2 separate regions of the Homo sapiens genome follow, and region 1 is linked to region 2. Evidence: fine-mapped expression QTL. A gene starts in region 2. The other region holds a variant in brackets. All regions are shown on one strand. Distances are between the middles of the regions.

Region 1 (16,314 bases), 120 kb after region 2:
GTACCATATTTACTCTATGGCTTCCAGTGCCTCTCTCAAATACTTAATTGGATATTCATATATAACTGAAAAGCAAGGATAGAAGAATAGAGGGAAATAATTCTGAAAACATAGATTAGATCTATGTATTATTGGGTCTTAAATAACAGAGCTCCACATTTGAATTTTATCATATACTAAACGAAAAAACTAGCAAAGGCTTTCTAATGGGGCATTAGCCTTATCTTTTATCATGTTGTTTTCTCCATCCAGAGTGTTTTCATCTTGCAAATCCTACCCATATTTTATGGTCCAGTTCAAATATCAGTGTTCAACTCAGCCTTCTTTGATTTCTATGCTGGCCTTTCATGGCAGTTGATCAGTAATGCCTTAGCACTTACCACATTTTACCTTGAATTTTAGTCATTTTATGCTGACGGCTCTGTACCCTGCATCACTATGAACAAAGTGACTTCCACATGGCAAATAAGAAATTCTTATAGAATAAATGAAAATGCCCCAGAGTAGAATAATTAATCTAGTAGCCAGATGAAGAATGTGCCAGAGATGGGTAGACTAGAAGCAGTAAAATTTGTCAGTACGCTGTTACAATAAGTCAACCATGAGGTAGTTAGCACAGAACTAGGAAACTGTCATTGACTGTTTGAAGTAAAATAGTAAGAAACGAATATGTAACATATTGCAGAGATATAATCTAAGTATTTGATTTGACTGGGGAAGAGAAAGACACCCAAAGAGGCTGGAATGTTGGTCTATTAACCATATTTGGGAATTGCAGACAGAGGGCTGGTATGGAGGGAAGATGTCAAATTTGGATTTTTGACATGTTGAGATCTTTTGCAGATGGAAGCATTATACAGAACTGTCAACTGGCAAATGGAAACTATTTCTAGCAAAGATTATGAATGAAGAGAATTTAAGAGCCATTTGTATAGCAGTGACATTGGAACTCATGGTGATATATGAAATCTCTAAGCCAGTTTGAGTGGATAGAGAGAAAGGGAGGAATGAAGATAAGGAATGTTCCATTGTGTATATATACCACATGTTAAAAAGGGTGAGAGAAAGAAGGGAATAGAAAATAAAGAGTGGGGAAAGAAAGATCAGGAGGCAGGAAGAGAAGCAGAACATACTGGAAACTCTGAGGCTGAGGAGTAACACTGGTAGGACAACTAAGAGACCTTTAGAGTGGTGGGAATAAAAGATTTCAGGAAGGTGAAGAGAGAATGATGGTGAAAGACCCCATAACTTTGGTTGCAAATGCTCACATGAGATCTAGATGGCTCTAGAAGGAACAAGAGGCTTAGTATAGGCTGATGGCCAGAGCTCGGATCATCAAGTGAAAACAGGGTGGTATTAATGCCCCAACAATGGAATCTTTACACTCCTCCCTTCCCCACCAGGCACAAGGCATTTCATTCTTTGCCCATCCTGTCCTGTCCTCAAATTTATCAGCAGTGCCAGAAGATACTGACCTCTCTAATACTGTTCTTTCTGTTCAAAATGTATCTGTCCTATGTCCTACTTCTTTGGGGTGGCATTTTCCAAGTATGTTCCACAAATTGTAGTTCTTCAAGATGCTGTAGACTCCAAGAGAATGGATTCTGTGATCAGGTAAGTCTTGAAAATGCCACAAGGAGTGCTAAATATCCTGAGAAAATTGATGAAAAAAAACCCTTATTGACTTTGTTTGAAGTACAAAACATTATTTGTTCATAGGCCTGCCCCCTCTTTTAATTGTTATTGCTATAAAACTCGGTGATTTCATAATACCCATGTGGGGAAACTTTGCTTTAGGGTCGTGGTGATGGATAATTAATCTGATAAATTGTTACATGGTTTGTTGTTAACGATTATGAAAGGATAATTAACCTTCTATTGTCAAAAATTTATAATTTACCAGATAATTTAATGAGGTAATAAAAATGTTTAGTGTGGGAAACTCAGTATTATGGTTGTCAAGTGGGGATAAATTTTGGGCAGCATAGTCTTTTAAAAGTCTTGGATCACATCATTCAAGTGGATAGTGGCTACTCAATGTCTACATCAATTTTAGATCCACAGCTAAATTCTATATCCTTTTTGCTAGGGCTATTACTGTGTTTCGACCCCAAAACTTCAATCAATTTTTCATCCAGCCTGAAGAATGGAAAGGAGGTATACAGCACCATGATGACATCTTGTGTGCTGCGTTTTTACCTCCACAAACTCTTGTTACGGGTAAATTGAACTTTCACTTGACAATCATTGGTGAAGTTTGATTTGTTTTGGTTTGTTTTGGCTCACTCACCTTTAGAAAAGCTTTTTCTCAGTTGTTTTATATATATATATATGTATATGTATGTGTGTGTGTGTGTATATATATATATATATATATGTGTGTGTATATATATATATATATATGTATTTTGAGATGGGGTCTTACTCTGTTGCCCAGGCTAGAGTGCAGTGGCCAGATCTCAGCTGATTGTAACCTCCACCTGCCAGGTTCAAGTGATCCTCCCACCTCAGCCTCCTGAGTAGCTGGGACCACAGGCACGCCCCACCATGCCTGGCCAGTTTTTTGTATTTTTAGTAGAGATGGGTTTTTGCCATGTTGTCCAGGCTGATCTCAAACTCCTGAGCTCAAGCAATTCACCTGCATCAGCCTCCCAAAGTGCTGGGATTACAGGCGTGAGCCACTGTGCCCGGCCATATATTTCTTTTTAAATTTATGATTGACACATAATATTAATAATTGTACATATTTATGAGGCACAACATGATGTTTCAATACATGTATAAATTGTGCAATGATCAGATCATGGTAATTAGCATATTAATAGCCTTACACATATATCATATCTTAGTGATGAGAACATTAAAAAATCTTTTTTCTAGCTATTTTGAAGTATACAATACATTATTGTTAACTCTAGTCATCCTACTATGCAATAGAACACCAAAACTCATTCCTCCCATATAACTAGCTTTTTACCCATTGACCAATCTCTCACCCCTCCTGTCTCCCCTCCCCATCCTCTGGTATCCACTGTTCTACTCTGCTTTTATGAGAATAACTTTTTAGATTCCACAACTAAGTGATATGATGTGATATTTGTCTTTATATGCCTGGCTTATTTCACCTAACATAATGTCCACCAGGTTCATTCATGTTGCTGCAAATGACAAGCTTTTATTCTTTTTATGGCTGAATACTATTCCAGTGTGTATATATACCACATTTTCTTTATTCATTTATTCATTGATGGACATTTAAGTTGATTTTATATCTTGGCTTTTGTGAATAATGCTGCAAAAAACATAAGGGTGTGGTGCAGATATCTCTTCCACATGCTGATTTCATTTCCTTACCCAGTAGTGGAATTTCTGGATCATATGGTAGTTCTATTTTCAATTCCTCCATATCATTTTCCATAAAGGCTATACTAATTTACATTCCCACCAGCCATATGTAAGTGTTTCCTCTGCCCCATATCTTCACCAATACTTTTATCTTTTGATTTTTTGATAGGAGCCATTCTGACTGGAATGAAGTGATGTCTCACTCACTTAGGTTGTTTTGATTTGTATTTCCCTGATAATCAGTGATGTTGAACATTTTTTCGTATGTCTGTTGGCCATTTGTGTGTCTTCTTTTGAGAAATGTTTATTCAGGTCTTTTGTCCATTTTTAAATCAGGTTTTCTTTGTTGCAGAGTTGTTTGATTTTGTTATATATTTTGGATATTAACCCCTTATACTATCAGATGTAAAGTTTGCAACTATCTTCTCCCATTTTGTAGGTTGTCTCTTTGCTTTGTTGATGGTTTCCTTTGAGCATGAATAGATTTTTGAAGAAGCAGCACTTGCTCTTCTTTATCCTTATTTCTAGGGAAATATATTGGTAGTTCTGATCATCAGCTCCTGTGCCTGGCTGTCTGATTTCCCCTCACGGCTCTACCAATTGCCACAACTTGATAATGAGCAAGTTATTTAAACTCTAAATCATAATTTTGTCTGGCTGATAATAATATATCTATATTTTGGTTTATAGTTCAGATTATCTGTGCAAGCATTTAACACAGTGCTCAGCACACAATAAGCTCATCCATAAATATTAGCTTTTATTTGTATTGTCCATTTTCCAGGAGCAGCTTTAGGGCTGTCAGGTACGAATCACACGTTGGTGGCACTTAGATGTTTCATAATGTGAACATAGTAACTCTTTGGCATAATTTAGCCCAGATAATGTTGATAAAAGTCTGTCCTCACAAAATGTCTACAAATCCAAGCTCTTAAAATGATTCATAGGCATGCTTTGATGTGGCATATTAAAGAGAATGAAAAATTGTTGTATCATTTCTGGCCAAAGAATGCAATTTATAGAGACAGATTGCACCATGAAATTTTCAAGTCCATATTTTGACAGCTGAATTTTTTTTATAGAACCAAAAATGTCATCAATTAAGAGGAATGAAAACTTACAGGAAAAGATCCAGGGTATCTATGAAGTGTTACAATATGAGGTTTACTGATCTATCTATATTTAAAGTTCCCCTGTTTTCAGGACTAATGAAATTACTTTCTAGTAAGGCCAACTCTGTAGGTAAATTAGCTTTATAGCCACTGGAAGGCCACCCCTGCAGGGAGGATCACATCCTGAAATGTGATGGGCACTGAAGTGTAAAATGGTGTGGTTGTTATTGTGAAAGTATTAGTAAATACCGTTGTATTGGTGGGTAGACAATCTCTTCACTCATTCTCCTCCCATCAATCCTATGTGGAAATATTTGGTCAGTCACTGCTAGTAAAGCATAGGAGAAGATGGATATTTCTATGGACAGCTGAACTCCATCCCCCTGGTTCAATTTGTGAGCTTCAGAGATTGTGCTTTCTTTTTCTTTTTTTTTGGATGGAGTGGAGTCTCACTCTGTCGCCCAGGCTGGAGTGCAATGGTGTAATCTCGGCTCACTGCAACCTCTGCCTCCAGGGTTCAAGTGATTCTGCTGCCTCAGCCTCCCTAGTAGCTGGGATTACAGGCACATGCCACCACACCCAGCTAAGTTTTTTTTTTTGTATCTTTAGTAGAGACGGGGTTTCACCATGTTGGCCAGGCTGGTCTCGAACTCCTGACCTCCTGATCTGCCCACCTCGGCCTCCCAAAGAGATTGCTCTTTCTAGGACAATACAGAGTTTGGTGTGCATTTCTCTCTCCTCTCCCCTAATCCCAAAAAAGTCACCATTTGTACATCCCACCCAAACTCTTCTGCTCTCCTTACCATAGACACTCTGCTCAGTGGGTAGCTGTCCTCACTGAGCCACTGAGAACAATGGTCTGGGCGTTGCTGCTTTGTTCCTCCACAGGACATGGTTGCTCAGACTTCACCTCACTTTGGGCTTTTGGGCTATTTGGGCTTTTCTCTGTTCTCTGTGAAGAGCAGTACTGAAGGACTTTCTGTAGGAAAAACTTCAGGATTGGAGAAGACAATATTCAATAAAGACAATATTCAGTATTCAATATAGGAGGGAAAGTATGAAGAGAAGACACACACACCCACCCACACACATACACACACAAGAAGGGATGTAGGAAACAGAAACATAGGAGGACTTGATTTACTTGCTTTTACCCAATAATAAAAAGTAGGATGGTAATTAACATTTTTTCCAGTACTTACAATATGCTCAGTGCTATTGTAAATACTTTCATTCTCTACAATAACCCTATGAGATAAATAAAATTATTAACTCTTTTTTATAGATGAGAAAATTGCAGCATCAAGCAGAGTTAAATAACATGCCCAAGGTCACACAGTAAGTGGGAGAACCAAGACTCAAGCTCCAGTTTTTTATTTGCAAAGCATCTGTTCTGAATGCTTTATTACCATAAAATAAAAGGAAACAACAGTAATTTCTACACACCCATGCTCAGGTTATACTGTGGGGATTGTAAGCTCTAGAGTTAAAACAAATACCAATTATTATTATTCATGTTTCTAAAAATATAGAGTGCCCACTATGTGCCATATTCTGTGGAAGATATGTTGCTAATAACTTCTTCTGATTGCTGTTGCTCATATTTTCTATCTTAATCTCCTGGCAATTTATATTCTCCATCCTGTCTTGTGTAGGGAGTTATGATGGAGAAATTGTTCTATGGAACAATAGCACAGAGAATGCTCACCATGTTCTTCACCCTGATTACCAGAGGTTGCTAAAGTCAAAATTAGGTAAGTGTGAGTTTGAAACGAAAATAACATGGCTAGTCAAATCACAGTAGGCCTGGTTGTTCATGCATGTGCCTGATGCGACTTGATCCTAAATTATAGATGATTGGCTATAAGCCTGAAGGATTAAGGATATCATTGTCTTGCCAAAGTAGCTAAAGAGAACCTTGAGATTTACTTGGCTTAGCACACTCTCCATGGCATGCCATTTCTTCTCTTTATGCTACATTGGTATTTCTGAACTACCGACAGCAGGGAGCAAGACTGTCATTTTTATTTAGTTTATTTTTTTTCAATAAACCTTGCCAAATTACCTAAGAGTGAACGTTAGATACCCTTTGGTAAAAAAATGGAAATTCATGTTCACTCGATAGGCTGTTCAGACTCAATCTAGAGCTTGTAATAAATATTATGCCACCTGGAAATCTTAAATTATTCCTTGCTTTAGAAGCCCATGAGGAACATTAGATGGGAGTATATTGTATTTTATGGGAGTTTAGCAGAGCACATGAATATTTTATACTTAAGTAAAATGTCTTGACAATTGCCTTTCACATTTTATTTCAGTTTCCTTAGATACTAAAGGTTTTTCTTTAGACTAATTTATTTTGGTAATGAAAATGTCATTCTTCATGGCCCAGTGAGGTTCTGTTGTCTCAACTGAATAAACTCATAGAGGCTGAATTGAACTTTAGGAATGGACTGATCATCAGATGCAGTTTTCTTTTTGGGTGAAAAGCTGAGAAGCTATTTTCTTAAGAGTAGGAAAACAAACTTAAGAGATTTAGGGGATACTTGGTTGCAAACACAAAGCTCTGACCTGCTTTATGTACTAAGAGCTAATCATTTTAAGATTCATCTGAACTTGCCATGAGGAGGTTGGAATTCTGCCTCTTCTTCTACACTGGGCTTTACAATACACAGAGAGATAATTAATGAGAAAAGTGAATAAATATCAAATTTCTAAAAGACATGAAAGGCATTGCAATAGATTTCTTATTTTGGAATTTTGAAAATACGTCTGTATAGATTTTTCATAACTATGGGCAGACTGTTCCTAGATTCTGAGACGAATATCCCCAGTGTTTACTAGTGTGGCCTGGAGATGATGTCATTAGATAATTGAAGTATGCTTAGAAATGTTTTCTCCAGAGTAACTCGCTAACAAATAGTATTGTTAAAAAGGCTCATTTAATTAAACATAAATAGTCTTTAGAACTCATGTTCATTATAATATTTCCAAGATTAATTTTAATGATTAATAAGTTGAAAATGCCACAGTATTGGAATTACGTTTGTCCTGGGCATATTAGGATCCCTAAGATGTTAGCATTGATGCCAATATTAAGTTCTTACTTAATTCATATCAAGTGAAAACAGAGCAAGTGTGTATGGAACATGAAAAACAAAAATAATGTCAAACAATTCTTCAAGTTGGGGTTGAGAAATAGCAGAAGGCTTGATAGATGTTGACTGGAAGTCTCTTGTGAGACTTGGAGTCAATGGATATAGTGATAGATGTGGGCCTGCTATTTCATAGGCATTAGTTTGAAAAGCAGATATTTTTCTTCATTAATATACTTGGCTTTGTCTCCCTCACAGATACAAAACCTCAAAAACTTCTCAGTGCTGGGAGAAGCCAACCCTCCCACCCCATGGCAGACCATTCTACCACGGGAGTCCGCAACTTTGAGATTGACACTGAGGGCAAAAATGCTGTTATGAGACTTTGCTTTCTTAAAGCAAGAAAAAACACTGCAGTGACAGGTAAAATATATATTTACATTTTACATATAGTTGGAAAGGGAGCAATAAAGAAAATCCAATCTATTTCTACTAGATCTTGTAGAATTTGACTGCACGTAGCTAACCAGTCAGTAGTGTGTCAAGTGAGGTCACAGACCATGGCAAAGGAAGTTGGAATTGAGGAGGATGGATTCAAGAGCAGGAGCCAGACTACATCCCACTACTAATTTATCCAGTGTTGTATATGTCAAGATCAAGATGGGAAAAATTCTGACAAATTATTGGATACGGGCAACAATCAGAATTGTTGTCCCAGACCTGTCATAAAGAGGTTTTAATACAGTAGGGGCACAGCAAGATGTATGCCGAAGTCAAAGCTTAAGTCCACATATAGCAGAAAAGTTGAGTCTGAGACTGACTATATGAGCACCTAATCAAAATAGGCTGGAAGAGAATAATGAGGAGCATGGATGTTAAGAACAGTAACAGAATTTGAAAGAATTGCTAATCCCAGGACAAGAGCTGCCTGCTCTCTTCTCTGTTCTCATCGTTTTGTTTTTTTTTTTAAGTATTGGTTATATCTTCTCCAGAGATGTATACTAACATTGATGCTATTTTATGATTTACTGTAGTTATATGATATTATGTAAGTGAAATAACCATTTGCTTAATTTTTTCCTTGTTGTCAGTGGCAATATTAGCATGGTGTTGATGCAGCCTGCATCTTTCCAAAATGAAAATCTGCCTTGGAGAATAATGTATATTTTTTTACCTTTCATCTAAAATAACAATCGTATCTTCAGGGTATATTTTTCTTAACATTAGGAACTAGACATATATGTATTATGTATTTGAAAAGGAAATGAACATATCTGAATTATGTTTATTGTTTCCCATATTTAATTTACAGATGAAAATCTGTATAATTTTCATATAAAATTTTTAATCATTAAGAATCAATAAAGGTATAGTTTAAAAACATTCTGGGATGTTTAGAATAAACTTTGAAACAATTAGATTCTAAAACTTTCCATTTTCTAGAACTTGCTTATACTCACAATATGAATTATTATCCTGAAATTACTCTCATTTCCTCAATACTAATTTTAATGTTATCAGTATTCCCAGATTGTTCTCACTGAAGCAGCTACATGTTATTATTTCTACCTTAAATAGATATGATTGTTTATTGGCAGTACATTTGTGAAGCAAACTGGAAGTCATCTACAGATTTATCAAATAATAGGAACCTTGCCACAAAAGAATAACTTAGGTAAAGTGCTTCAACAAAACCTATAAAAATGGAAAATGAAAAGGTTAGTTCTAGGCTCATTCACCAAAAAGGGGTTTTATAAGGGTTTACAATGAATTATTGATGAAAACATTTAAAGAAAGCTCATAAATAGAATTCTAAGCATGCTGCCAAACGGAGAAGTCAATAGCTATTCTGCTATCACTACATATTCCATCCAAATCTGTGCATATGGACTTTTACTTCATTGTATATGTCCAGTGGGTTATTAGGGAAGATTAATTTTATATAATGAGAATATTATCATAATGTTGGAATTAATATTTCATGTTTTATCTGAAGAAACAATTCTATCTAACTTTTAAATACCCCCAAAACATCAGAATAATGAATGAAGAAAAGGGAACTAAACGTAATGGAACACTTCAATATCCTATCTCATTTAATACTCAACACAAACCAGTGAGGTTATCATAGCGTCACCTCCATTTTATATTTGAGAAAATTAAAGTGGTGCTGGGAATTGATCTCAGGGCTACTCACCTCTTCAACATCACATGCTTTCCACAGGGAAAGCCACTGAAGAAGTTATTTCTGGCATTTGTTGTTCAGTTTTCTAGTTAGATTTTTCCCTTACATGTTAGGAGGAGCTAACCTGGTATCATGTGGAGGATCTGGTTATGTCAGATTTTGGGATATATATAAGAAGCAACTTCTGGCTGAATTTTTGGCTCATAGTGGAGTTGGATCGATTATTATGTCTACTGATAAGATGAATCGATACCTTACCACAGGAGATCTTGATGGATGGTTGAAAATCTGGAATATAGAGGTAAATTGAAAAACATTATCACATTACCTTTAAGATTTTTGGTGACCCTTTGTTGCAGGTAACTATGAATCAAGCCTTGTCTGTCTCCTAAACAAAGGAAAAAATGTATAGTCTAAGTGTTTTAAATAAAACATTTACAAGTTTCATGCAGAGACTTCTTTTAAATAATTAATGAGGAAAATCATGTTTTTCTCAATATTGACAACCTTCTGTTAAGTAAGTCATCCAATTTAGAAATGCAATATTGTTAGTAAAGCACTGCAGCATTATTTGAATGTAAATAATTAGGATACACCTTATTTTTAATGTATGTATGTATTTATTTATTTATTTTGAGACAGGATCTCCCTCTGTCACCTAGACTGGAGTGCAGTGGCATGATTATAGCTCTCTGCAACTTCAAACTCCTGGTTCCAGCCATCCTCCCACCTCAGCCTCCTGAGTAG[C/G]TAGGACTACAGGAGTGTTCCACTATGCCCAGCTAATTATTTTATTTTATTTTATTTTATTTTATTTTATTTTATTTATTTTACTTTTTGTAGAGACAGGGTCTCACTAGGTTGCCTGGGGTGAGGCTACACCTTATCTGCAATGAGATTGTAAATGTAATTTAAATACTAGAGGACTATTCCTTCATTTAACATTATTGTTACCCTGAGTTAGTTTGGGATTTTTTCTTTTTTATCACTGATTACCTGCTCAATTTTCTAATAATATTTGAACGTTGTATATGTGACCACCTGTATGTGGTAAAGTTCATCTCTATCAAATAATTGGCTTTACTATTTATATTTTTCTTTCCTTCCTCCTTCCCCACTAGTTCCTTTTTTTTATTTCCCAAGTAATCAGATAAGTTAGAAACCTTTTTTTAATGTAATTTCGTTTTCTAGCCTCTTTTATCATGAACTTTTCTTTTGCATTTGGATCATAGGTTATTGTTCCCAAGTTTGAAAATCGGCCTTTTTTTAAAAGTGTTATGTCATTGTAATCATTTCATATTTGAATTTTTTAGAGTTCTGGTATTTCTTTTCATTCAGGAGTACTGTCTTAACTCCAGTAAGAACAAAATCACCAAGGCCCCAACTCTGATAAGATCATTCCAACCTCATGAGGACCGAATAAGTTCCTTAGAGATGTGTGAGCCAGGTGGTCAGTTACTGATTATCTCCTCCTCTGCAGACTGCAGTATTTGTGTGACTGGTGTCTGCAATGCTCCTGTTTGGATCTTTGGTCAGGTAGAAATATTGCTTCTTTATTATTCTAGTATTTACTTGACATTTAGTATTAACTTGGGCTGATTTCTATTTGAATCTCATCAGCTGTTTAATGTTCATTAGTCATGAAAGAACTGACAACATTTCCGAAGCAGTAGCTCCAGGCGACTCTTGCCCTGTTTTCCATTAACCAAGACAGTTCCATCAAGTGGAAGACACCAGAGACATGGAAAGATGGGGGCTCTGTGCAGCTCAAAATATTCTAGGATTTCTGAGAAAAAATTCTCCTCTAGAATAAATTTCTTCAATTTCAACATTTAGTAAAAGTTCAACGTGGATAAAATGATCATGTAACTAAAAAGACAGGTGATTATGACTGTTAACTAAGAACGTAATAATCAAATGCAGAAAATTTTAGAAAAAAAAACCAATCATCCTATTCATTATCTGGTTTACTGCTGCCAAATAATAATAGTTAACATTTGCTGAGTTTTTCTTGTGTACGTGGGGTACTGTTCTAAGATGTTTTTCAAGAATTAACTCATTTAATCTTCACAATTGCTCAACTCAGGAGGGAGCAGCTCTCACAATTCCCATTTTACAGATAAGGAAACAGAGGCACAGAGAGTTTGAATAAATCACCTGAGCTCACAGAAGCTAATCGTGGTAGAGTTTTGTTTTTAACTCAAGTTGGGTCACTTCAGAGCTCACATTTTTAACCCCTTTCTCAAGATCTGACTTGCTCCTGCCTATGAAATGAAATGGAAATGGGAGTCATGAAAGAAAGGAAATATTTAGTCTCATATTTTCTGTTATTTTTTCCTTTTGCTTTCTTGGGAACTTTTCCTGTTCCATTTGTGCTTTTGCGGACAAAATATGTTTCACTGGTTTCAACCAGTACTATTCAAACCTGGTATAAGTTTAAGTGAAGCCTCAATATCTGTTTGGCCAGCTGATTTGGTTCTATTTAGGAGCCTCAGGTGCCAATCTTATGCCAGGAGAGTAGGCAATTCTTTTAGTGTTGGAAGACAAGGTTTGTTGTTGCTGTATTTGTAAAGTCAGTTTGATGAGGCCAACCTGTGTGGAAAGAATTCTAAGCACCCCTTTAGGATGCAGAGGGTGTTGGTAAATCAGAAAATCATCTGGGAGGTGGACCCACATTGGCTAGACGACAGTCTCAATGTAACACTCCGGAGCTGTAGCAATCTCTTGTATTTTGTAAATAAGACAAGCACTAGACTTTTCTCAGTCAGGAAAAAAAGCGGCTAAGTGGGAACTCATACAGGCTTGTGATGAGTGAGACAGGGTGGGACATGGCTGGCAGTCTGGACAGGAAAGAGGGTGGAAGCCTGCTTCAGGCCACTGAAGAAGCCAAAGCATTGCTGACAGAGGCTGTGGCAAGATGAGGTGGAGGTTTGAACAACAGGTAAAGAAACGAAACGTCATCAAGTGGGTGACCTAAGAAGTTCCTTAGACATCCGGGGTCGAACCAAGAAATAACACCGTTCTAGGTGTAGGTGCCATATAAAGTTCACCCACCAAACATAATCTGTAGCTAAATTTTATTTTAATTCAGAAATGTGTGCTTGTAAAACTGCTTATTTTTGTATTATTGATATTATTTGTTGTTTCTGTGAAGTCTTGCTTTTTTGAAGATGCAAAAAGCCCTCATGAGAATAATTTTATTTTTTCCCTTCTGTTCAAGACAGGAGAAGAGTCATCAGAGCTGGGTCAGTTTTACAAATTGAAGGCTAGCAAATCTGGGGAAAACGGTTTTCTAGTTCCTTCTGCTTGCACTACTTCTTTTTTTTAATTTTTATTTTTTAAAGGATTGACTTTTATCAAGCTGTCTTGAATATAAGTGCCATTAGTCCCAAGATGTAGAGCAAAGAGTGTGGGGAAGAAGAAACAGAAAGGAGGGGAAAGGGAAAGGAAAAGAGGGAAAGGAAAGAGAGAGGAGAAAAGGGAAGTTTTTTTTTGTTGTTTGTTTGTTTGTTTAACAAAAAAACAAAAATTAGAATCACTTTTATAACATAGCTATTGACCTTAGGCTGGTTTTCAGGTTAGATTTTTAAAAGTAAGTTGTATGGTATGTCTATTTCTAGAGTTGGAGAAATAGGAGTGAAGAGGATTTATTCATAAATGCATGTTTATCCCACGAAGCTGACAGGTGATTGTGGGATAAGAAGAAATTCAAATGATGCTTGAAATTCTTCAGTGCCCCACTTTGTGCACTAACTACTGTTGTGCTAGGCAGAATTTATGTACTGGCAACTCTCCTCATCTGATTGATTTGATGTCCAGTGACTTTGATTGTGTCTCTTCATCCAGTGAATAATTAAAATTTGATTTAGTTGCCCACATTTAAACAATAATAGATTTCATGTAAAGATTCAAGTTTCTCATTTCTCTTAAAAAAAGAGCAATCAGGCAAGAGAAAGAAATAAAGGGTATTCAAATATGCAGAGAGGAAGTCAAATTGTCTCTGTTTGCATACAACGTGATTGTATATTTAGAAAACCCCATTGTCTCAGCCCAAAAACTCCTTAAGTTGATAAAGAACTTCAGCAAAGTCTCAGGATACAAAATTAATGTGCAAAAATCACAAGCATTCCTGTACACCAATAATAGACAAGCAGAGAGCCCAATCATGAGCGAATTCCCATTCACAATAGCTACAAAGAAAATAAAATACCTAGGAATACAACTTACAAGGGACATGAAGGACCTCTTCAAGGAGAACTACAAATCGTTGCTCAAGGAAATCAGGGAGGACACAAACAAATGGAAAAACACTCCATGCTCATGAACAGGAAGAATCGATATCATGAAAATGGCCATACTGCCCAAAGTAATTTATAGATTCAATGCTATTCCCATCAAGCTACCATTGGCTTTCTTCACAGAACTGGAAAAAACTACTTTAAATTTTATATGGAACTGAAAAAGAGCCCATGTTGCCAATACAATCCTAAGCAAAAAGAACAAAGCTGGAGACATCATGCTACCTGACATCAAACTATACTACAAGGCTACAGTAACCAAAACAGCATGGTACTGGTACCAAAACAGATAAAGAGACCAATGGAATAGAACAGAGGCCTCATAAATAACACCACACACCTACAACCATCTGATCTTTGACAAACCTTACATAAACAAACAATGGGGAAATTATTCCCTATTTAATAAATGGTGCTGGGAAAACTGGCTAGCCATAAGCAGAATACAGAAATTGGACCCCTTTCTTATACCTTATACAAAAATTAACTCAAAATGGATTAAAGACTTAAATGTAAAACCTAAAACTATAAAAACCCTAGAAGAAAACCTAGGCAAAACCATACAGGACATAGGCATGGGCAAAGACATCATGACTAAAATACCAAAAGCAATTGCAGCAAAAGCTGAAGTTGACAAATGCAATCTAATTAAGCTAAAAAGCTTCTGCACAGCAAAAGAAAATATCATCAGGGTGAACAGGCAACCTACAGAATGGGAGAAAATTTTTGCAATCAATCAATCTATCTATCTGACAAAGGTCTAATATCCAGAATCTATGAGGAACTTAAACAAATGTACAAGAAAGAAACCAAACAACCTCATCGAAACGTGAGTGAAGGATATGAACAGACACTTCTCAAAAGAAGGTATTTATGTGGCCAAAAAACACTGAAAAAAAGCTCATTATCACTGGTCATTAGAGAAATGCATATCAAAACCATAATGAGATACCATCCCACATCAGTTAGAATGGCAATCATTAAAAAGTCTGGAAACAACAGATGCTGGTGAGGATGTGGAGAAATAGGAATGCTTTTACACTGTTGGTGAGAGTGCAAATTAGTTCAACCACTGTGGAAGACAGTGTGGCAACTCCTCAAGGATCTAGAACAAGAAATACCATTTGATTCAGGAATCCCATTACTGAATATATACTCAGTGGATTATAAATCATTCTACTATTAAATACACATGCACATGTATGTTTTTTGCAGCACTATTTACAATAGCAAAGACTTGGAACCAACCCAAATACCCATCAATGATAGACCAGAAAAAGAAAATGTGGCACATATAAACCATGGAATACTACGCAGCCATAAAACAGGATGAGTTCTTGTCTTTGCAAGGACATGGATGAAGCTGGAAACCATCATCCTCAGCAAACTAACACAGGAACAGAAAACCAAACACCACATGTTCTCACTCATAAGTGAGAGTTGAACAATTAGAACACATGGACACAGGGAGAGGAACATCACTCACCGGGGACTGTTGCGGGGTGGGGGAAAGGGGAGGTAGAGCATTAGGATAAATACCTAATGCATGTGGAGCTTAAAACTTAGATGATGGGTTGATAGGTGCAGCAAGCCACCATGGCACATGTATACCTATGTAACAAGCCTGAATGTTCAGCACATGTATCCCAGAACTTAAGGTGGAAAAAAAAAAAAAGAATGTATGTCATTCCTTAAGAGTAACTATGGCTTTTATGTAAAATGGGTTCTCTTTAATTCAGTATAGTCTCTGAATTTTTTTATTGCCTTAAAAACTGAGGGTGAGTTTTATTTACTATTTATTACCCATTTATTTTCTTGTATTAGGTTCAATTCATTCATTGATATTATTTGACTGGCTCTGTAGGCATTTTATTCTGCAAACACTTATGACAAGTCTGATCAATTTGCGCACCAGCCAAATATCTGCAGGATGCCTACGGTTCCCCTCATATCTCACAGGCTGCATTCTCTGGAACATTCTGTGTGCATGAAGTGTATTGATATAAGATGAGAAAATTGGCTCTGTATTTAAAACATAAAATAGATTGTTAATGGGGAACTTTTGCTAGATGAATGCATTTTAAGAAGTGTAGCCAAATCTGTGAAAACTATTATATAACACACATAATTTTTAGAAAACAATATTTAATAACTGAATTGGCTTTTGAAAACATTTAAGGAGGTAACACGCAAATAAAGTAGTTGAGGGAATAAATAAGTGTGGCAATTCTTTAACAAAAGCTTTGTTTTGTTTTTAGTAAATGTACATCTGGCTATTCAGA
Region 2 (16,314 bases):
TCATTTTCTAGACTTTATGCTCCTTAATATTAAGACCCATAACTGATAGCTATTGGGTATCACCAGGGTAGTGCCCTACACATGTTAAGTCACATAAACATATAAAACGAATGAATGACCCAACCAAAAAATAAATATTTACATAGCCATTTCTGGCTAGAAAATGTCTCTATACATGATTTCATTTGAGCCTCAAAGTAATTATTTGCACTGTACATGTAGGAATCATTATCTTCACTTAGGACTGTGGAAACTGACGCCCAATGAGGGTAAATTTTAGAGTCACATGGACATGGTGGAGGCTGCACCAAAATTCAGGTCTCCTGACTCTAAATTTAGAATTACTGTTTCATTGTATTTTATTCCCTTCAGAGATACTCTTATCGCTACCTTATACCTCTGCCACCCCAGTTAGTGGTCAGTGCTTACCCAAAGTACTGTAACTGCCCACAGTTTCCCCATATGAGGCAACTTATCTGAGAAACTTCTAGTCTTTGCCCTGACATGTCTCCCCTTCTCTCTCTTTATCTCTCTCCTTCTCTCTGTCTCTCTCTGTGTCTCTGTCTCCGTGTGTGCACGTGTGTTTATATGTATATATATCTCTTCCTTTGGGGTTAAGCCATTCAGTGAGACCAAATTAAATTAAAATCCACTTTCCTTCTAGAATAGAGTGTTTAATGTTTTAGGAACAAAACATCTGATTCTGGGGATTCAGGCACTCAGACAGTCTAAGAGGGTCACATTATGATAGACAGTAGTTACACTGCTTTGAATATCATTTCTGTTGTTATTAAAAAAAACAGATTCAGACAGTGCCGAACAGACCAGGCCCTCTTAGGGAAGATGTCTATAGTTGACATTAACTCTGACTAATCATAAGGAAGAAAGCATTTTTTCAAAATGATAAAACCACACATCTACTAACTCATACAAATGTGTGCGCGCACACAATCATTGCATTTAATAACTAACATTGAAGTATTGATATAGCGTTGCTCTCTGGAATAGATTTAGACATAAGACCTTCCTAAACACAATGAAAATGATTACAGAATCTCAGCTTTAATGTGAAACATCATGATATAGATAATTTTGCTTCATTCTGTTTTACAATTCTAATATTCCAATCTCTCTGTGAACTCCTACCTTATTTTCCCAAGGTTGCAGGAAATTTACCTTCTTCCAACTGTGTAATAATATTAATGTTAATTCATGTGCATAATGTTTTAAAATTTACATAGAGTTTTCACTGTATTTTATCTTTTTAACCTTAAAATGATTCTATGAGATAAACAATTCTGCTATCTTCATTTTGAGAAATGACTCAACCTGCCCAAGATGATAGGGCTGAAAATGAGAGAAACAAGACTTGAACCTGGTATTCTGACTCCAAATTTTAAGCCCATTTGACTTTATTTCCTAGTATGGGCTTTCTTATTTCTTTACTTTTTGCACGTTTTAGCTCCTGAACTGGGTTAGAATTTATTGTGGTGTTTAGCAGTCTACCCTGCACAGGGCTTTATACTATGGAGAAACTTGGGATTTGAACTCCAGCTTTTCTACTTCTTGCTGGATGATCCTAACACGTCATTTGCCCTGCCTAAGCCTCAGTTTCTTCAGCTAAAAATGATGACAATAATAGTGCCCATATCATAGGATTTCCAGGAAAATTAAAGGAACTAATCTATGTAATGTTCTTAAAGTGCATAACGTCATTCTATTGGCATTGCTACATTATAGAATTTGCAAGTTGTATGAAGTTGGATGAGATATTTTTTGTTTTAGTTTCCTCATCTGTCAAAAAAAGAGAGAAAACATTAGGTATCTTGCAGAGATATCACAAGAATTAAGTAAAATAACATTTGTGAAAGTGCTTAACACAATGTTTGGCATATACTAGGAGCTCAATAATTGTTCATTTCCCACCTAACTGCTTTCTGTCTTTCTTCAAGGAGACAATCAGTAAATGCTTACTGGATTATCAGTGACTCCTTTCATGCAATGATTTTTTGACTGTTTTCTAGTGGCTCTAAACATGAATGCGAGTGTTCGATATCTAGGTGGCTTTGACACACTGTTCTAAAGCCCCAGGTAGAATAGCAGGCAGTTTTCTCAGAGAGGCAATGGAAAGGAATTTAGTAAGCTAGTTCAGAGCAATTGCCGAGTAAGTGGCTCCCTTATGAAGGCCCCACTGATGACTGAGAGACCCACGTGTGACTGAAAACAAGGATGCTGGATTTCAAAGAGAAGATATGCTAAAGCAAAGAGGGACAAAAGTGATTCGTTGTTGGAAATACTCATCAGAATTTGCATAAATAGATTGACCTTCTGACTACTTTTTTTTTTTTTGAGACAGCCTCACTCTGTTGCCAGGCTGGAGTGCAATGACGCGATCTTGGCTCACTGCAACTTCAGCCTCCCGGGTTCAAGCAATTCTCCTGCCTCAGCCTCCTGAGTAGCTGGGATTACAGGTGTGTGCTACAATGCCCGGCTATTTTTTGTATTTTTGTAGAGACAGGGTTTCACCATGTTGGCCAGGCTGGTCTTGAACTCCTGACCTCAAGTGATCCACCTGCCTTGGCCTCCCAAAGTGCTGGGATTACAGGCGTGAGTCACTGTGCCCAGCCATGAATACTTTTAAGTACTGATCTCAATATTAAATTCAGCGGATCCTAAGTGTCTACTGATAAAGTCTTAGTGGGCTTTTTTCAAGTAAGTTAGAACATTTAAGTCAATAATTTTCTCAGTTTTACAATCTATTTCCGCATCTATTTTTAAATTTAGCTACCGCTGCTTGCTTCTTTATGATATGTAATTTACTGCAAAATTATATATTTAGTTGTTTTAGGATATCATTATTTCAATAATTCTGTGTTCAAATACTTGAAAAGTTTGAGAAATGCTGTTATGAAAATACAGTTTTGTCTGAGTACAGTGACTCATGCCTATAATCCCAGCTCTTTGGGAGGCTGAGGCAGCGGGATGGCTTAAGCTCAGTAATTTGAGATTAGCCTGGGCAACATAGGAAGACCCCGTTTCTACACAAAAGTTTTAAAATTAGCCAGGCATGGTGACACATTCCTGTAATCACAGCTACTTGGGAGGCTGAGGTGGAAGGGCCTGTGAAGTTGATGCTGAAGTGAGCTGTGATCAGAGCACTGCACGCCAGCCTGGGTGACAAGGCAAAACTCTGTCTCAAAAAAAAAAAAAAAAAAAAAAGGAAAGAAAGAAAATGATTTAAAAATTACAGTGTTGTTAATTTAACAATGGAAACTACTTTCTCAAAAGATAGGATTAATTGAAAGCCAACATTTACTGTGACATGTGTCTCTGAGCAATGGTGGGCATAGAGATGTATCTCATTTATCTTTGCTTTTCCAGTGTTTAGAAGCAGCACCTGGGACAGAGTAAAGCTTCAACACATATTTGTACATTACACAGAAATTGTATGAAGAAAATGCATTTTTTCAAAAAGCACTTGATAATTTTAAGTGGCTTGAAGATACTGTCTCAAATTTCATTTCTGTCACTAATTTTCTTTCTCTCTTTTTCTTAATGACCTTTGAGTCATATGATTTTCTTTTTTTCACAGAATTCTGCTTCTCCTTCTGATTCAATGCCGCCTATTCCCAGGACCCTTGCTTGATAACTCAAGGTTATAGGTGAATGTCTCCTTTACCCACCTTGTTTACAAATGAGCATACATTGCTGTAGTGTCGAGAAGTTTATGCAGAACACCATGTTGGGCAATGTAAGGCTGCAGCATTAGTGAGGTATCATCCCTGTTCTTAGGAGTTAATCTAATGGGAGAGAGAGATACACAGACAACTAATTACATTACAAAGCAGGAAGAAACAGTGCTGTGTTTAAAGTCTGAAAAAAATGCTGTGGTTGCAGAGTGAAAGGAGTAATTAATTCTAACTGGGAGGATAAGGAACAAAGAAGGAAAGAAACTAATATCTGTTGAGGGCTTAAAAGGTGCCAAGGGCAGGGCCAGAGCTTTCCCCAGGCTTTGAGAGGAGGTTCCTTTACACAGAGCCAGCGGGTGTCTGGGGCTTTGCTGGAAGGCATGAGGTCAAGAGGCAAGAAGATGATGGGAAAAACATCCTTTCTTTCTCTTCCTGTAGCAGTGAGGACTTGAGAAGGAGCAGTGAGGACTTGAGAAGAACAAGGAGCAGTGAGGACCTGAGAAGGCTGGGCCGGAAATGAGGTTCCTAAGGTAAAACTGATTTCAGTTGAAGTGAGGAGGTGGAGGGAGAATTTAGGCAAAGATTAACGAGTAAGAACAGGCTTCAGTGTGAATGGTGGGCAAAGAAAGAAAGAGGAGTTAGAAGAAAAGGAAAAGGGAGATCTATATGTTGGTGGGGATAAATTGTGGGGGGGGAGGAGAATGGGGCTAATGATCATAACTGCCTTGTAGGGCATGTTATGCTCAGACATGTGTCTCTGAGCAATGGTGGGCATAGAGATGTATCTCATTTGTCTTTATTATTAGCTGAACCAGTTTTATCATTAGATTTATTATATTATGGTATACTGTGTTTTTCTCACATTTTCAATAAGTTGGAAGCTTTTTTGGACCATTTCTATTTTATATACATAGAAACTAAGACAAAAAGAATATAAGGAATGGATTCCTATCCTTTAAGAATAAAACATTTTCTCTGTGTAAAACATACAATTCCAGAATTTAATGCTCTTTTCTTTGGCTAATCATATTGTTTCATAATATGTATCCTACTTTGTAGAAAATATAATGGTAAAAAGTAGTCCTTAAATAATATAAAAGGAAGGTCTATATTTATGTCAGTGGCAATAAATTGTGGGGGAAGGAGAGAGCAGGGATTTGGGTGTGGACTGTGAATTGTGATAAAGACACAGATGGGTGTGTCTATTCGGTGGGGAGAATTATTCAGTCCCAAAGTGTCAAAGGCCAATGGATGTATCAGCTTACTCTGCCCTCTTGGTGCTTAGGGCTCCACTATGCTGGCAGGTGTTGTCTGATCCCTACAGGAGAAGGGGGCAAGTGTCAATCTGCTTTTTGGCCTTCTAAAGGTGATTAAACTGTCACCATCTTGATTTTCACAATATCATACTTGATTCATGGCAAGCAAGAGGGAAAATTTCACCAGTCAAGACACTAGTTATGGATTTTACAGTGCCGCAGGAATTTAACCTGAAAATTAACCACACAGTTACAGAGAAGGTTAGAGCCATTTAAGCCTTTATGATCAAGAATTATTTCTAATGTCATAATTTTATAGCAAGAAAACTGTGTCAATTGATTAACTTCTACTGTAATTTGTTAGCTGCTCATTATACTTTCCTGTTTTGACTAATGAAAACATTTAGGGCTGCAACTTTATGGAAGCTAAGTAGGCCAGGCATCTTGTCTGTCTTAGAATAATTAGAGAATTTTGCATTGTCAGCCAGTGGGATACCTACCTCTCGTGGTTCATCTTTACAGAATGTTTTTCCTATTTCTTCTCCCTTCCCTCATTAGTGTCTGCTACTGAACTAAGCCCAACTCTCTAGAATATCACTATAAAACATTTTACAAACATTTATGGGGCTGATCCAGCTGATTTAAAGTATTATTAACTTACTAACTAGGGTGATAAGAAGACAAATCGTGTTCCCATGTAAGATAACTTAGGGGAACTTGTAGTATTAGGGCTTAAAAATGTTTTCCTAACTTACAAGAAGGACTTATCGAAGAAAAGCAAATCTGGTAAATACACCCCCGTTCTGTGTGTGTGATACATATCAATACATATATACACATCTATAATGCCACTCTTTCCCTTTGAGCCTAGCTATGGCTTCAGAATGCTCTGAACACAGCACTGTGTTGGAACACTGAACACAAGAGGTTGGAATTGGCATTAAAGATGAGCTAGACGGATAATTGCCCTGACTAGACTGTAAAGCCCTTATGGCAGGCACCAGGTCACAATTCAGGACTTGACATATATTAGGCATATATATATATAGAGAGAGAGAGAGATAGAGAGAGAGAGAGAGACAGTGTCTATCTCTGTCACTCAGGCTGGAGGGCAGTGGCGTGATCTTGGCTCACTGCAACCTCCGCCTCCCAGGTTCAAGCGATTCTCCTGCCTCAGCCTCCCAAGTAGCTGGGATTACAGGCGCCTGCCACCATGCCCAGCTAATTTTTATATTTTTAGTAGAGACGGGGTTCCTCCATGTTGGCCAGGCTGGTCTTGAACTCCTGACCTCAAGTGATCTGCCTGTCTTGGCTTCCCAAAATATGGAATTACAGGCATGAGCCACCGTGCCCTGCCTATTAGGCTCTTAATAAATGTTTTTTTTGAAAGAATAATGAGAGATGGATGAAAAAATGAAAGCATGAATGAAACTTCATTTTTTTCTATAATGGGTACAGGAACTCCTACAGGATGCTCTTCTCTCTGTTCTGTACCATGCCTCTAGTGAACACCAGCTCAGAGAATGTTAGAGCCGGAAGAGACCCTAGAGAAGATGTAATGCCAACTTTTTAGTTTACAGAAGTGAAAATAAAGTGCAACGGGCACATCCATCTAAAGTGCAGTGATACAGTTGGGCAGTGTCCCCACCCAAATCTCACCTTGAATTGTAATAATCCTCACATGACAAGGGCGTGGCCAGGTGGAGATAATTGACTCAAGGGGGCGGTTTCCCCATACTGTTCTCCTGGTAGTGAATAAGTCTCATGAGATCTGATGGTTTTATAAATGGGAGTTACCCTGCACATGCTGTCTTGCCTACTGCCATGTAAGTCATGACTTTGCCCTCATTAGCTTTCTGTCATGATTTTGAGGCCTCCCCAGCCATGTGAAATTATGAGTCAATTAAACCTCTTTCCTTTATAAATTACCCAGTCTCAGGTATGTCTTCATTAGCAGTGTGAAAACAGACTAATACATGCAGTATCTGAAGTTTGGGAGCCATTCTGTTCTCTTCCGTATGTTACTATTTGTGTGACCTTTGGCATTTTCTTTGCTTTTTTTTTTTTTCTTTTTTGAGACAGGGTCTCATTCTGTTGCCCAGGCTGGAGTGCAGTGGCACAATCTTGGCTCACTGCAACCTCTGCCCCCCAGGTTCAAGGGATCCTTCTAACTCAGCCTCCCGAGTAGCTGGGATCACAGGTGTGCGCCACCATGCTCGGCTGATTATTTTTGTATTTTTACTAGATACAATGTCTCGTCATGTTGCCCAGGCTGCTCTCGAACTCCTGAGCTGAAGCCATCCACCTGCCTCAGCCTCCCAAAGTGCAGGGATTACAGGCGTGAGCCACCTTGCCCGGCTTTTTGCTTCTTTATCAGTAAAATGGGGATAATGATCACATCTGCCTTGTAGGATTGTTGTGAAGCTTAAACAAGACAATGAACATAAAGTTTTAGTGCCTGGCACATGGTTAATACTCAAAAAATGTTAATTTTTCTTCTTTTTCTCCTCCTTTTCATTATTATTAGCTGAACCAGTAATGACACTGCAAGCAATTTTATCATTAGATTTATCATATTATGTTATGCTGTGTTTTTTTATCACATTTTCAACAAGTTGGAAGCTTTTTTGAACCATCTCTATTTTATATACATAGAAACTAAGACAAAAAGAATATAAGAAACAGATTCCTTTTATATAAAAATAAAACATTTTCTGTGTATAAAACATAAAATTCCAGAATTTCATGCTTTTCTCTTTGACTAATCATATAGTTTCATAATATATATCCTATATAATGGTAAAAGTTGTCTTTAAATAATACAAGATGTCGTTTAATAAAAAATGAGTGGAATGAACTGTCCTTTTATTTCAAAAAAAACCATTTCAACATTTACATTATATATTTAAACTTTCAGTTGGAGAGGGGGAAGTGAAAGGGAAAGTTTTAGTTGGCTTTGTGTTGGTTGCCAGGAAACATACAAAAGGATCAGAACAGATGAAACAAACAACTCCACATTGCTGGGAAGGTGGCATTCAGAGTCAAGTACTTCATTGGTAGGGAAACTCTGCAGCTTTGTCATCTAACTCTTCCAGACAAGAAAGTGGAATTGAAAACTACAACATGTTAATGGAAGCAAGGTTAGTTAAAGAGATTTTTGGGAAGGTGCTTTTCTAATGCATTTAAAATGAGGATTGGAAGTTGTTTTCTGTGTCAGTTACTATAAATGTGGGGAAAGCTTTACACATTTTTAATCAAGCCAGGTTAAACAGAGTATAAGGAAGGGGTAAAAATACCATTTTAAAAGCATTCAACTGTAAATTTTGAAAATAAACTCTAGAATCAAATAAGTGAGAGGGTTGAGGGCTTTCATTTCCTACCTCAGCTTGAACATTTTGCCTCCTGATCGTATGCCTTGAAAGGTTTGTACTTTCATTTTGGAATTCTGTTGCTAAGTTGAGTTTCTTTTCAAAGGCACCTGTTGAAGGAAAAAGAAGATCCATCCTTATAGAAATAGTTGAAGGCAACTGAGAAAAGGTGAAGCCATTATGAGTTGCCAGAAAGCTGTACTTGAGTTAAACATAGGGTCACAGCTTGGGCCAAAGAGTCCTGAGAGAACAGAAGGTGTAACTGCATTTGAAGACTATGGCACAGGCCTGCTTGAAAACCAACTCAGCGTGGGTGACTTTGTAAAAATACAGAAGGCCTTTGAGGTAAGTGTGAAGCTTATTGACCAGATAGTTTGAGTTGTTCATGAAGGAGCCTAGAATGAAACACAGAGATATTTTTCTTTAAGCATTAAAAAAATACACTTAATTGTTATAGCAGAGAATTAAAAATAATTGGTTAGGCCTGGATTTAACACAATGTGCTTGGTAGCTTTGCCCCTCAGTTCTTTGGGCCAAATAATATTCTTTAGTTTGAAATTGCTTCACTGAATTTCATTACTATCAAGAAAGAACTATTTATTGTTGGAAAAAATTTTTTTCTTAGAGATCAACATATTTTGGGGAAACAAAAAATTATGGCTGTGAGTGAAGAAAGCCAGATCTCTAAGGTGACCTCCAGGAATAATTGTTCTTGCATTTAATACGGACATAGAACTCAGCAAATGCAAATATGCATACCCAGTTTGCAAAAAATTTCCTCCTGTCTCACTCACCCTAAGTGGCACAGCTCCTTTTCTAAGCTGATTCTGGCACTTTGTTGTCCCAAGATCCCTTATGAGGGACGAGTCTCCCACTCATTTTGTAAATCCTGGAACAATGCCAATAAAAACAAAATTAGAATTTTTCATTTTAACTCTGCATAAAAAATAAACCATAGGAATTTAACTGTAAATGAATAATTTTCTTCTCTCTTAGTCAATGAATTTTGAATTCTGCAGCTATGCATAATGAACAGCATACATCAAAGTGGTTTTTAGTTTCAAATATGGGTAGAAAGAAGTGCTCTTCCATGACGTAGAATTTAGGTAGTCATGAGCCTCCAACATTTCTACTATATTATGTTTACTAAAGTATGATCTAGGGCCTTCTTAAGATTGTCCGTGGGTGCTTGGAGTATCCATACTAATTTGAAATAGAAAATATTTTGGAATACCACCTGGAAATTAATAAAATATAATAAAAGCTCACAATATATTAGCCTGTAATAGGCACACATTTTTATCTTTGGATATCCACAAAAGAATATAACAAGTTGGGTTCCACCTGTATTGATAAATTAATGTCCCAATAGTATCAATCATTTCTTTATAATAGAACTTATCATATTTAGTAGCAAGACATGCTCTGTCCTACACTTTTCTCATTTCAACCTTCATATATTTGCTATTCAACCAACCTCATTTGTCTGAAAGATTTCACTGCTGCTGCTCATGCCCAGTGCCCCAAGTAAATTTAGCATATTTTGATAGACATAGCAAACATTTTGACAGCTTGAGGACATTCAGTAAAACATAACAGCAGATTATGACAGCTTTGACTCTATAGTGAACAGAAATGTGGCAGTTTTGTTCCGGTGCTAAGAACACAAAGAATTTGAATGCTAGGGCCTATTAGGAGAGTCTACATTATAAAGTTGATGTGTTGGTGAAACTGCTTCAGAAGGTTAGAGGTGGGTGTTCTTTCCAAACTGCAGATTAGTCTTGAATGAACCCAAGTGAAACTGGAAAATTCAACCTCAAGTTTTAATTTATTTCTATTTTATGTTAAATATTTCAAAGGCCAGACCACTTATTTTGACATTACCGGTTGGAAAAGCAGGAACTAATGGACCAAAGAGGAGAAGAGAAGGTAATTCGGAGCTTGTATGAACATAGACAGTTTTTCTAAAAAAGAAATTGAGCTTTGCAGGTGTACCTTCAAAAAAAAAAAATGAAGTTCATCCATTTTAGCAGACTCAACAGCCAGAGAATGGAATAATCCCATGGCACATGTGCAGCCAGTACTAAAAGTTAGACCTTTGAGCCAACATGATTTCCAAACACAGCACGGACACCTAAAGAAGAATGATGCACTAGATGACTTTAATGGTATCCAGTCCATCTGTCATGAGTTTTAGGCCCAGAGGCCACAGGTATAGATTGCTGTAAAAGGATAAAATGCCCTCAATAGCATTCCTGCAACTTTGAACTCTAAAGGCAGTGATTTGTGGTCCAGTTACTAAGGACATGCTCTTAGAAATGTCAAGATTCTGGCACCAGATTCCTTTATATCTTCATTTTTTTTTTCTTACACAGATTGCTTGTTTGGGGCTGAAGAGTTGTCAGATATTAGGTGAAGTCCATCTCCTTAAATAGCAGTGGCAATTCTTAAGTGAAAAAACAGGAAGTTGGGTCTTTGAATTATGCAGTAAATGTTTTACGTGTATTTCCGAATAAAATATCACATACCATACTAATCGTAGTAGTAACATTTAGGAATAAAGCAATTAGTGCTTATGTTCATTGTGCAGTTGTATAAATGGATCAGAATCATGCAGTGTTTCAGATCTAGGAGTCAGATTTCCTGAGCTTAAATCCCGGCTTTGCTACTTACAATGTGACTCTGTGCAAATACTTAATCTCTCTGGGCCTCAGTTTCCTTTATTTCTAACATGAGGATAACAGAGCTTTCATGAAGATTAGAGGAGGTACTATCTGGAAAGCACTTTAAAAAGTGCATGCCACAGAGAGTAAGTGCTCAATTAACATTAGATAATTGAGCTAATTATCTCATTTAGTAAGTAGAAGTTAAACCATGTGACCTCTGACAGTGCCTTGATTCTAATTCATACTTTTCTTAAAGGAAATTAAACTTCAAGTGACACTTGCTGCTATGCGTCTTCATTCCTATTAGTTGTGGAAGGAAGTGGTTAGAGCTGCAAAGACATAAATTCACATAGAAGAGTCAAAAGCATAATTGTTCTATCTCTCATTTCATATTTTCTTAGCAGGCAAAAATTCTAATTGACGTCTTGATTCTTTTCTTTGGAACAAATAAGTTACCTGGGTAGAAGCACAGAAAAGTAACTTGTGGATTTCATTTTCCTTTAAGTGATGGTGTCAAAAGAGCCATATATCAGCCTGAAGGGAGAGAAACTTGCATTATTCATAGAATCGTAAAATGGTTGTTACTCAAACTTCCCTGTAGCACTTACAATACTTAGAGAAATGACATGGTCTCTGGATGCTCATATTATTTTGATGTCAACCATATTTTACATTTTCTTTGAAACTCCAAAAGCCAACTATTGTTTGAGGAAGAGTAGCTGTGGTTTGCTGATTTTATAGGAGTGGTGAGAAGTAAAAATTTTGGTCTAAGGAAAATGGAACTTTGGGAAAGCCATGGAGCTTGATATTTATTGAGCTTCTCCTGAGAGTCTGGCTATGTAGGTTCTGAGTGTTTCTTTTTTTACATTCTCCATTGTTGATCTCTGTATGTCAATGATGGTTTAACATTGGACCTTGATCCTAGATTAATTGCTGCCCGTTTGGTCTGAGACCATAGTTTGCCCTGTGCTCCTGGGCTCTCCAGGTTAGGTCCTGAACTGCCTTTATCAGCAACTGTGTCTATATCTTCTCCTGGCACACCTGTTCTGGCCTGACTGTAAGCTGAGAGCTGGAGGCTGGCTTTACCCTGTCAGCTCCATGCTATCATTTGCCCAAGCCCTACTAAATCTTTAGCTTTAACTATACCTAGAAGCCACATGTAAAATGTGAGGTATTTATCCTTAAAGTAGGAAGGGCCAAATAGTTTTAGTGTAAGAAAGGCACAGTAAAAATCCTAGCAAGACTGCCCCAGAGACTGTGTGGTGAGAATTCTTAAAACAAATCTGTCTTGGAGGTGAATGAGATCTAAACACAATGCACTTATTCAAACTGAATCTCAAAAGACTGGAGAAGTTCAGTAGTCAATTCTGCAAGTTCTAGAATTGTGCTTAACGGGTAATACAATTACATTTAAAGAATTTTGATATTCTCATCCTTGATTATCTTTATAAAATTCCCAAAACACCTCAACAGTATCTTGGGGATTTTAGAAAGCATTCTACAGCAGGGTCTATGAACTGTGCTTGTTTGCTTCAAGACAAAGCTGAGGATGTTGATGTCCTGCCAGGCAAGCTAGGCTCTACAGGAATATAGAAAGTCAGATTGGGCCTTTTCTTACCTTTTTTTTAACTTGTCCTTCTTTCTAAACTGTCAAGCTTCCTCCAAATTTATGGAGGACCCATCCTTCTCTAGGCCTTCTCATTGCCCATTGTACCTTCACTACTAAGGTACCCAAATGAACAGGTCTTCCTAGACGTGTCTCATACTCCAAAACTATTCTTATATCTTCCTTCTTGCCTTTCTACCCAGGCACCACCATCCCAAACACATAAATAAAATTACTCATTTTTGTTTCACTCCCTTTCCCCAGAACCTTTAGATGTTCTTATCTCTGATAAAATGAGATGGTCCATAAAGTTCATTTAAAATTTTTTCTTAGATAAAACTGTTAAGGTATAAAGTTGGATATTATGCTATCCAACAATGCTGAGAATTAGAAAATATTTTTTATAGTGTATGCAAACTGTGTAAAATATATAATATCTGCAACATGACAGAGGTATTATTTCCTGTTCACATAAAGTAAAAAGCAGGTATTTCTAATGGGTAAGCAGTTGCAAGCAAGGATTCAGGTCTCAGGCTGTCCCCACCTTCCGCCTTCTACACAAGCCATACATCAGCTGGTAGCAGTGGAGAGCACTAGGGAATGTTTTCTGTGGTCCAGCTCACATCCCATTGGCCAGCACTCAGTCATATGGCTACAGGTAACTTCAAGTTACTTCAAGTCGTATGGCAAGTAGGGACAGCTGTGTGCCCAGATAATGATCTCACCCATGGTCCTCTTAGAATTTTGTGGGAGGAAAATTTCCTTCTCTCCTAATGAACCAGCATGCTTCAGTTTGTAAATTATGGAGACCTTTGTGTCTAATTGTATTTTGTGTTCTGTCTTAGCTGCCAGGAAGTTCAAAGCTAAATTTAGTGTTCAACTCTTACAACTATGCTTAACTTAGGTTTTCTGGGACAATAATCTGCTATTTTATTATATAATTCTTGTTCTTTTATCTTTGTTTTAATAGTCGGTCCTATTGCCTATGTATCTTCTGTTGTAACTGAACTAAAATTCTTTCTGGAAATCAGTGTAGGTAAAAATGATGAATAAAAATTGAATACCTTTCAAGTATAGTAAGATTTTATAAAGCACTTATGTTGGCATCATGTTATTTGATCCTTTACCAGCCTGAAACATAGGCACGGCATAAATTTTTACTTCCCATTTACAAATAAGGAGATGAAGGACTAAAAATATTCAATTGAATTCTCCCATGGGCAGAGCCAGAACTCAGAGGCAGATTGTCAACTTTGGAGTCCATATATGGCATGATTTCCACTGGCCACAAGATAACCTTCCTTTGGCATGTTGCTCTAAGGAACATGAATCCAACAGGATAAAGATTTCCTAAACAAAATGCATGTTAAGTTAATAGTGCACAGGCCCTGTGCTCTGCTAACTTGGAACTAACGCATAATCAGCAAATAATCAACAACTGCTACAATGAAATCAAGGTAGAGAAAGGGTGGAAGAATGAAAAGAAGATAATAACCAATTGCTTTTTTGAAAAATATTTTTTTCTTTCTAAAGGCATCTCAGTGGAGACTTGTGAGAAGGTAAACAGGTGAAGCTTAGTCTCACCTGTATATAGTAAAAAGTGCATTCTGCAGCCTCAGTCAATTCATCATCTGCTGAACAAAGACAGCAGGTCATACCATTTCTCACGCATTGCTCTTAGTGCAATCAAAATACCTATTTTTAATGGCAGCAGAAAACATTAAGGTGATAGCATGAAGACAAATCCAATACTACTGCAGTTGGCACAATTAGAAATGGCAGAGGAATTCTGTGGTGGTTTTATCTGATTTGTTAAAATTCATGAATAATGCTAGCAAATGGCGTCATCACCAAAACTCAAGGAAGTGAAGTTGTATCTCACTACAAATGAAAAATTTGCCTTCCAAATCCTGCTGCCTTTGTGCTGATTTTTGTGACAAGTTCTAACAGCTTCCTGCCTTTTCAAACTCTCTGTGTACTTTTACAACAGGCACTTACAAAAATTAATCTGGATCAGTGTGTGATGAAGAGTGCCTTTAGTAAACAAGTGGTTTAACCTTGAGTGTTGGCCAAAACTGGAGAAGTGAAGACAACCAAGAAAAGCTTGTTACAGAGGAGGGAGGGAGAAAGAAAGCAAAGATGTCTACTGCTGTTCATGTGTAGTGCATCAGCTTAGCCAGACTTGTGAACTAAGGGCACTGCTACTTTTGAAATTTTCCTGAGAGTTAAACAAGAAAAATGAATAAAAGAATGAAAGAACCATTATTTGTGGCATTTTGGTTTCAATTTGTCACATTTTGCCAAGTATAACGTATTAATGATGACACAAGACACCCTCACTCTATTGCTAGAAATAGGAATCCTCTAAACTGTCCCTTAGTGATTTCTGACCGTTTCCCAAGGCTCTACCTCATACTTGTGCAAGAAAAAGCCCCTTGGGGTCTTTTCTCCCTTCATCATGTCTCACCAACGTTCTATGGATGTGACTATTATGAAATCCTGATTCTCTAGGCACCGACATCTCTGTGGAGGCATTACCAGAGACATTATGTTCCTCTACTGCTTCACTTCCCATGTGTGCATGTGTACACCTTTCTCTAATCTTCTCAATAGACCCAAGGCCAAATTATCACACTAGTTTTGCTACAGATGTGTACTCTTCAATATGTGCTACATTTGGTTATTTAAATAAAGTAAGAATTTCATAAAATAAAGTTCAGTTCCTCACAAGCACCAGCCATTTCAAGTACGCAGTAGCTACTATACTGGACTGCAAAGAATATAGAACATTTTCATCATTGCAGAAAGTTCCATTGGACAATGCTGCTTCGAACCCTTTCTCATGACTTCGTACTAACTTGTTCTGCTTCCTCACTTCTGGACATATATTTGTGGCAAGGAGCTACTCTCAGCTCCTCAATCCCACTATAAACACATCAGACTGCCCATGTCTTAGAACCCAGAGGCCAAACTGATCCTTGGCCCCAGAGATAGCAGAAAATATTTCTCTTCACTCTAGTCTAAGACCTATTTTTCCATGTTCCCTTCCTAGGACTGTAAAGAATGGGAAGATCTATTCCTTTCAGGGGAATCCTTCCTTCTTCCTTCTGGTGCAACTCCCCTCCTCTCAACTCCCAACACACACACAGGTGTTTAGTCTGGATTTATGGTTCCAATGAGTCCATCACAAAATTATCTGACCTGGGCCATTACCCAAAGAGTTTCAGTCATGCTGATCATATTTTACTTACTCCTGTTTTAGGGCCTACCAGATGCTGGTGCCTCAGTTTGGAATATTTCTCTCCCATCCCCAACAATTTCCTGGCCAACTCCTACTCACATGTGTGTAAATACCACTGCCTTAGGAAAGCCTTTTCTTACCATGCAGGCGGGATTAGCGCCCTACAATGACCCTGTTTTCTCTTCTCATAGCTTCCTATATGTTCCTTTGGTTGCTTTCATCATAGATGCTCTGATTAACGCAATGCCATTATTTGTTTAAAGTCAAATAGAAGTCCCAGGCAGGCTATGAGAGACAAAATTGAGTGTGAGAGAATCGCAACATAGATTCTGGAGGAGAGAGGCCATGAGATGAGATATCTGTAGGAGAGAACAGACTGTTTAAGACTGGACCTTACAAAATTCTTCAAGGTGGTGGAGAAACAACTGGAGTTGGTACAAGAAATAAAGCAGCTGAGTTATTTTCCAGAAGTAGAAGGAGAAGAAGCA

What was found.
Region 1: its variant is fine-mapped to the expression of WDR49 in nasal epithelium (TOPMed, PIP above 0.99).

The regions. Positions count from the first base shown.
Region 1 is chr3:167,522,776-167,539,089 of GRCh38, reverse strand. It overlaps WDR49 (WD repeat domain 49), which reads left to right. Exons shown (of 19, transcript NM_001366157.1): 11 at 2,090-2,220; 12 at 6,113-6,211; 13 at 7,811-7,975; 14 at 9,851-10,038; 15 at 11,073-11,270. Among named protein-coding and RNA genes, the nearest start is that of SERPINI2, 57 kb to the right of the region's middle. The variant C/G (reference allele first, on the strand shown) is at 10,485.
Region 2 is chr3:167,645,605-167,661,918 of GRCh38, reverse strand. WDR49 (WD repeat domain 49) reads left to right here and starts at 7,977. Exons shown (of 19, transcript NM_001366157.1): 1 at 7,977-8,085; 2 at 8,420-8,658. The coding sequence starts at 8,494. RefSeq lists enhancers at 7,717-8,239, 8,240-8,763.